Linked DNA regions of Homo sapiens: region 2 is reported to be linked to region 1. Evidence: microRNA targets listed by miRTarBase, many of them from high-throughput screens and not tested one by one. Region 1 holds a microRNA gene; the other region holds the end of a gene's coding sequence.
The links. The annotated mature microRNA hsa-miR-34a-5p reads UGGCAGUGUCUUAGCUGGUUGU and lies in region 1 at 2,001-2,022, opposite strand. An mRNA with a match to its seed (bases 2 to 7 or 8) in the 3' UTR can be bound and repressed. Matches are read on the target gene's strand: a 7mer-m8 pairs with bases 2 to 8, a 7mer-A1 pairs with bases 2 to 7 and ends in A, and an 8mer does both.

Region 2: miRTarBase lists CD70 as a target of hsa-miR-34a-5p. The part of its 3' UTR that is shown has no 7-base or 8-base seed match.

What each region holds. Positions count from the first base shown.
Region 1 is chr1:9,149,735-9,153,637 of GRCh38, forward strand. It overlaps MIR34A (microRNA 34a), which reads right to left and starts at 2,043; the gene lies at 1,934-2,043. MIR34AHG (MIR34A host gene) reads right to left here. Exons shown (of 2, transcript NR_132742.1): 2 at 1-2,101. RefSeq lists a silencer at 1,852-2,088.
Region 2 is chr19:6,583,456-6,586,455 of GRCh38, forward strand. CD70 (CD70 molecule) reads right to left here. Exons shown (of 3, transcript NM_001252.5): 3 at 2,384-2,950. The coding sequence ends at 2,565. Among named protein-coding and RNA genes, the nearest start is that of CD70, 6.2 kb to the right of the region's middle. RefSeq lists an enhancer at 2,258-3,000.

The DNA.
Region 1 (3,903 bases):
CATAAAGCAACAGAGGGGTCCCTTTAATTTAAAAGCTCAGGACTCTGAATCAATTGCTGGTTGGGAGAAGGTAGAGACATTCTTTACTTCTGCCTAGAACTGGGGAAAATGGCGTAGACTTCTGCTCTGAAGCAGTCCTCAGTGCTGCTTCGGTCAGAACTCCCGAGAGGCATCTGAGTGCTGGCCTGTCACTGCGGCTGGCATTCCAGGCATTTCATTGGCCCCACTTCAGCCCACGCCTGGCTCCACGGGGCTGGGCAGCTGAGGGGAGTTTGTGGCAGAGTGGGCATGGGGCACGGCCCGTGCAATGTGCGTTACAAAGGGGCTCTCTCTGAAGCAAGTCCTCTGCACTCCAGTCTATTTGAGGAAGAAAAGGACAATTCCCATAGGGAGGGGGTTTGCTGAAGCAACCAGCTGCCTGGTTTCCTCTCCAGCATTGAGAGGGAGGGAGGGCTGGCTTAACTGGGGGACGGCCTTCTCATCTGGACTGTGTCAAGGCCAAGGTTAGGCTCCAAATTCCAGAAAACCTCTCTGCAGGGTCTTCTTTCAGAGTGGTGAGAATGGAAGCAGGCTCCCTTCCCCTCCAGCACTAGGAAGCCCCGCAATTGGTGAGGTGCAAAGAAAGATGGGCCCAGGCAGGGAGGCGGGAGCAGGGGAGGTGCCCAGGGCAGTGGCTGGAAGGGCAACGGGAGAAGCAGCAGAGGCTGGGGGTGGGGGTCGCAGCAGGTGCTGTCCCTGGCCTGTGTGAAAGGTACTAGAAGGCCCCATCCTTGGTGCCACATGGACCCCAGAGGCTTGTCTTAGTCCATGGGGTCCGAGGTGTAAGACACTTACGTTTGGCGTCACCTCTTAGGCTTGGATGAATTTCAGAAAGTGCTAGACTGGAGAACAGTGGAAAAAATCAGTGGAACAAGATCTGGAGCACTCACTGCTCAATGTCAATGTTAGAGAGCACAACGACACCAATGGGAGGAGGGTGAGGACCAGAGGCTGATTGCATGAGCTCTGTTGGAGTGCAGGACCCACTAACGGGTTATCTCAGGGTTCCTGGAGGCCACGGCTGTGCCTTGTGGTCCAAGACCTGGGGAAGCCACCACTGTGTCTTCCCTCTCCATCCTCCGGTGACTTTGGTCCAATTCCTGTTGCCATGGCAATCAGCCCAGCTGGCCTCACAGTTCACTGGCCTCAAAGTTGGCATCTGTAGGTGAAGCCAGTGGGACCCAGAGAACTTAATTCTTCTCAACTGAGCTGGCTTGGAGGAACTTTTCTCATCAGCCACTGGAGCAGAGAACGTCACCAGCGTCTCACTGACGTCAACATCCTGGGCCTGGCTCTAGCTGAAAAGGAAAATTCTCCCCAAGGCAGACACATCTCCCGAAGCCCACACAGGCACTTTCTATGATTGCACTGGAAATCTGTCTCCTGGGGACAGGGAGCGCGTACGCTCACAGTCAAGTCACAATGTTGAGCAGTCTCCAGGACTCCACGTTCATCTCTAAGAACAGGAGCCGGTGGTTGGGCGCAGATTCTTGAGCCAGATTGCTCGCGTTCAAAACCTGGTCCCTTTTTATTAATTGCATGCTTAGTTACATTTTCTGTTTGTACTTTTGTTTCCTTCTCTGCAAGACGGGGTTAATCACAGACACTTGTACATGATGTAATACACTTACAATACTTAGGACAGGCCTTCCTGCATAGTAAGTGCTCTGCAAACACTGGCTACTATTCTCCCTACGTGCAAACTTCTCCCAGCCAAAAGCCGCCCACACCAAGCCCCTGTGCCTTTTTCCTTCCGCACCCACGAGCAGGCTGCTCCTGGGGCCCTGGAGCTCACTTTCCCAGCCGCCCTCACCACCCACCGTGGCGCAGAAGAGCTTCCGAAGTCCTGGCGTCTCCCACTGGTCTGGGCATCTCTCGCTTCATCTTCCCTCTTGGGCCCCACAACGTGCAGCACTTCTAGGGCAGTATACTTGCTGATTGCTTCCTTACTATTGCTCACAACAACCAGCTAAGACACTGCCAAAGAAACACTCACAGCTGGCCGGTCCACGGCATCCGGAGGGGACTCGGGGGACAGGCCTGTCCTGCCTCTCCCCAGCACCTGTTGATAAGAAGGAAATGTGGGGAGGAAAGAAAGGATGCAGGAGGCCGAGGTGGGAGGATCGCTTCAGGCCAGGAGTTCAAGACCAGCCCAGGCAACTAGCAAGACTCCATCTCTACAAAAAAATTTTAAAAATTAGCCAGGCATGGTGACATGCGTGCCTGTAGTCCTAGCTACTGGAGAGGCCAGGGCAGGAGGATCGCTTGAGCCCAGGGGTTGAGGCTGCAGGGAGCTGTGATTGCGCCAGTCTGGGTGACAGGGTGAGACCCCGTCTCTAAAAATAAAAATTGGGTGATGGCTCACACCTGTAATCCCAGCAATTTTGGAGGCCAAGACAGGAGGATCACTTGAGGCGAGAAGTTCAAAACCAGCCTGGTTAACATAGCCAGACCACCACCTTCAGCAACTGTCTCTACAAAATGAAAATAAAAATAATGAAAGAGAGAGGATGGAGGAGAAGGCTGAGACCAGTAACAGATTCCAAAAGGACTAATTGACAAGGAGAAAAAGAGTCAGCACTTCCCTGGAAGAGAAAAAATTCGAAAAGGACAGTGGTTGAAAAGTCAGCATGTCTGCGTGAAAGGGAAGCAATGAAGTAGCGCCAACTCCTCCCCCGTCCCGGGCACCGTTTAGGGAGAGGATCAGAGTTCTGCCAGAGAATCAGAACCAGAAGGAGATATAGATTAAGTTTATTTCAAGGAATCGGCTTACGTGATTGTGGGGGCTGGCTAGGCAAGTCTGAAATCCAGAGGGCAGGCCAGCAGGCCGGAAGCTCCCCGGAGGAGCTGACACTGCAGTCCCCAGGCAGGATTTCTTCTTCTTCAGGGAAACCTCGGTTCTGCTCTTGAGGCCTTTCAACCGATTGCATGAGGCCCACCCACCTCGCAGAGGAGAACCTTTGACTTACAGCCAGTGATCATCAGTGCTGACCACATGTACAACGCACCTCACAGTAGCACCCAGGCAAGCGTTTGGTTGAATCATGGGTATCACAGCCTCGCTAAATTGACAAGGAAATTGCCCATCACAGGGTTTAAGATCTAGTGCTTTAAGATCTACTGACTTCTTGTTGTTTTGTTGTTGTTGTTTTTATAGAGATGGGTTCTTGCCATGTTGCCCAGGATGGTCTCAAACTCCTGGGCTCAAGTGATCCTTCCGCCTCGGCCTCCCAAAATACTGGGGTTATAGGCATGAACCACTATGCCAGGCCAAGATCTAGTGACTTTGGATACGGACCACCACGGAACAGTTCCTCTTCCATGTGGGTGTGGGGGCATGAAGGACTGTTTTCAGGAGGATCAAAGTCACCTCTACCCCAGCATGGGAAGTCCCAGAAACTTGAGTTCCAGGTAAGGTAGTGCAGAAAAAAGCAGGCTCATGAGCCAGTGCTGTCTCTCTCTGTGCAAGGGGGAAAGAGCCCCTCTGAGGCCTCCACACACAGTCAGCAGGACACAGGACACAGAGGTCAGCCTGTTGTGGCCACTGTGAAATGTCCCGTTGGAGTTGACAGGAGCCTGCTCTGACCTCAGTCCTCCTCCTCCAAACAGGTGACCCTGTAATGCTCTGGTTAAAAAGCAAGCCAGCTGGACTGTGTTATCTTTTAGTGTGGGAAAAATGCTCTTAGGCCGGGCGTGGTGGCTCACACCTGTAATCCCAGTACTTTGGGAGGCTGAGGTGGGTGGATCACTTGAGATCAGGAGTTCGAGATCAGCCTGGTCAACATGGTGAAACGCCATCTCTACTACCAAAAAAAAAAAAAAAATACAAAAATTAGCTAGGCATGGTGGCATGTGCCTGTAGTT
Region 2 (3,000 bases), not on the chromosome of region 1:
CCAGTTCCAAAATCCAAAAAGCCCTGGAAATCAAGTTGTTTTGGTGAATTGTTTGGCAGCAATCTCTGACCTGAACTAACTTTTTGTTAATTGTAGTCTTTTTTTTTTTTTTTTTTTTTTTTAAAGACAGTCTCACTCTGCCACCCAGGCTGGAGTGCAGTGGCACTATCTCAGCTCACTGCAATCTCCACCTCCTGAGTTCAAGAGAGTCTCCTGTCTCAGCCTCCCTAGTAGCATGGATTAGAGGTGCCCATCACCACACCCAGCTAATTTTTAAATGTTTAGTAGAGATGAGGTTTCACCATGTTAGCCAGATTGGTAACTGTGGTCTTGATTTTTTTTTTTTTTTTTTTTGAGATGGAGTTTCGCTCTTGTCACCCAGGCTGGAGTGCAATGACATGATCTTGGCTCACTGCAACCTCCACCTCCGGGGTTTAAGTGACCCTCCTGCCTCACCCTCCTGAGTAGCTGGGTTTACAGGTGCCGGCCACCATGCCTGGCTAATTTTTGTGTTTTTAGTAGAGACGGGGTTTTACCACGTCGGCCAGGCTGGTCTCAAACTCCTGACCTCAGGCGATCCGCCCACCTCGGCCTCCCAAAGTGCTGGGACTACAGGCATGAGCCACCGCGCCTGGCCTGTAGTCTTGATTTTTATCCCACTTAGTGTGAATGTTAACACTTCTCATTGTAAAAAAAAAAAAAAAAGATGTGGTGTTTGATTACAAAATGCTGTCCCGACCTCACTGAGGTGATGCATAAAAGATGGTATAAGCGCTAGGCGCGGTGGCTCACAACTGTAGTCCCAGCACTTTGGGAGGCCGAGGCGGGTGGATCACAAGGTCAAGAGATCGAGACCATCCTGGCCAACATGGTGAAGCCCGTCTCTACTAATAATAGAAAAATTAGCCGGACGTGGTGGCGGATTTCTGTAGTCCCAGACTTGGGAGGCTGAGGCAGAAGAATTGCTTGAACCTGGGAGGGTGGAGGTTGCAGTGAGCTGAGATTATGCCACTGCACTCCAGCCTGGACAACAGGGCGAGACTCCATCTCAAAAAAAAAGATGGTATAATCCTGTACACCATCTTTAAATACTGGTAAATTCTGAGTTCCAAAATGTATTTGAGGTCCAGGCAGTGGCTCATGCCTGTAATCCCAGCACTTGGGGAGACCGAGGCGGGAAGATCGGCATTTCGGGAGATTGGAGTTTGAGACCAGCTGGGGCAATGTAATGAGACCTCATCTCAAAAAAAAAAAAAAAAAAATAGCCGGGTGTGGTGGCCTGTGCTGGCGGTCCTAGCTATTTGGGAGGCTGAGGTGGGAGGATCGCTTGAGCCCAGGAGTTTGAGGCCGCAGTGAGACAGGATCATGCCACCGCACTGCAGCCTGGGCGACAGATCAAGACCCTGTATTTTCAGTAGAGGTGAGGTTTCGCCATGTTGGCCAGGCTTGTCTTGAACTCCTGACCTCAAGTGATCTTTTATTATTATTATTTAAGTTCTGGGGTACATGTGCAGGATGTGTAGTTCCATTACATAGTTAAATGTGTGCCATGGTGGTTTGCGACACCCCTCACCAGGCTGCAGTGCAATGACGCGATCTTGGCTCCCTGAAACTTCCGCCTCCCAGGTTCAAGAGATTCTCCTGCCTCAGCCTCCTGAGTAGCTGGGATTACAGGCGCCCTGGACCACGCTTGGCTAATTTTTGTATTTTTAGTAGACGGAGTTTTACATGTTGGCCAGGCTGGTCTCGAACTCCTGATTTCAAGTGATCCACCCACCCTGGCCTCCCAACTCATTAGGTATTTTGCATTGTCTGCTTTGAGAGACAGTCACCCAAAGTGATCTTTGTGTTTCCTCTCTTGTCAAATAGATGCACCAAGGAGAAAACAGAACTTTTTTTTTTTTTTTTTGACAAGGAATCTCACTCTTGCTCAGGCTGGAGTGCAGTGGCATGATCACGGCTCACTGCAGCCTTTGACCTCCTGGGCTCTACCCAATCTCCCACTTCAGCCTTTGGAGTAGCTTGGACTAGCACACCACTACATCTGGTTAATTTTTGTATTTTTTGTAGAGATGGGGGTCTCACTATGTTGCCCAGGCTGGTCTTGAACTCCTAGGCTCAAGCGATCTGCCTTCCTCAGCCTCCCAAAGTGCTGGGATTACAGGCATGAGCCACTGTGCCCAGCCCACTTCCTCTATTCTTCAAACATCCCTAACCAAGAACATTTTTTTTTTCCTGAGACAGAGTCTTGCTCTGTTGCCCAGGTTGGAGTGCAGTGGCGCAATCTCGGCTCACTGCAACCTCCACCTCCTCGGTTCAAGCGATTCTCCTGCCTCAGTCGGCCGAGTAGCTGGGATTACAGATGCACGCCACGAAGCCCAGCTGATTTTTGTATTTTTTAATAGGAAAATGAAAGAAAAAGCTCAATGCCTTCTCTTGTCCTGCCACCACTACCCCCCACCACACTCCCACCCCAACCCCGGGTGGCCCCTGTGTGTACACTTTTTCTCTTGAACTTAAATAAAATAAAATAAAATTTAAAAAACCCTAATCAGCAGCAGTGGTCAGGGGCGCACCCACTGCACTCCAAAGAAGGTCTCATCAGTGTTTCGGGAAGGCAAAAGTGTCCCAGTGAGGTTGGTGCAGAGTGTGTCCCCTCGGGCCAGGGGCGTCAGGCGCTGGGAGGCAATGGTACAACCTTGGTGGAAGCTGAGACGCAGCAGGCTGATGCTACGGGAGGCGGGAGAGCAGATTCCCACGGCCAGGGTGGTGGGGTGGTGCCTGGAGGCCGTCGTGGAGGAGCAGATGGCCAGCGTCACCTGGATGTGTACCATGTAGATGCCATCACGATGGATACGTAGCTGCCCCTTGTCCAGCTCTGGTCCATGCAGGAAGGAGCGGCCCAGTGCTGGGCCCCCCTGCCAGTATAGCCTGGGGTCCTGCTGAGGTCCTGGGGGCACAGGGTTAGAGGGATGAGAGGATGGAGGTTTAGGGAAACTG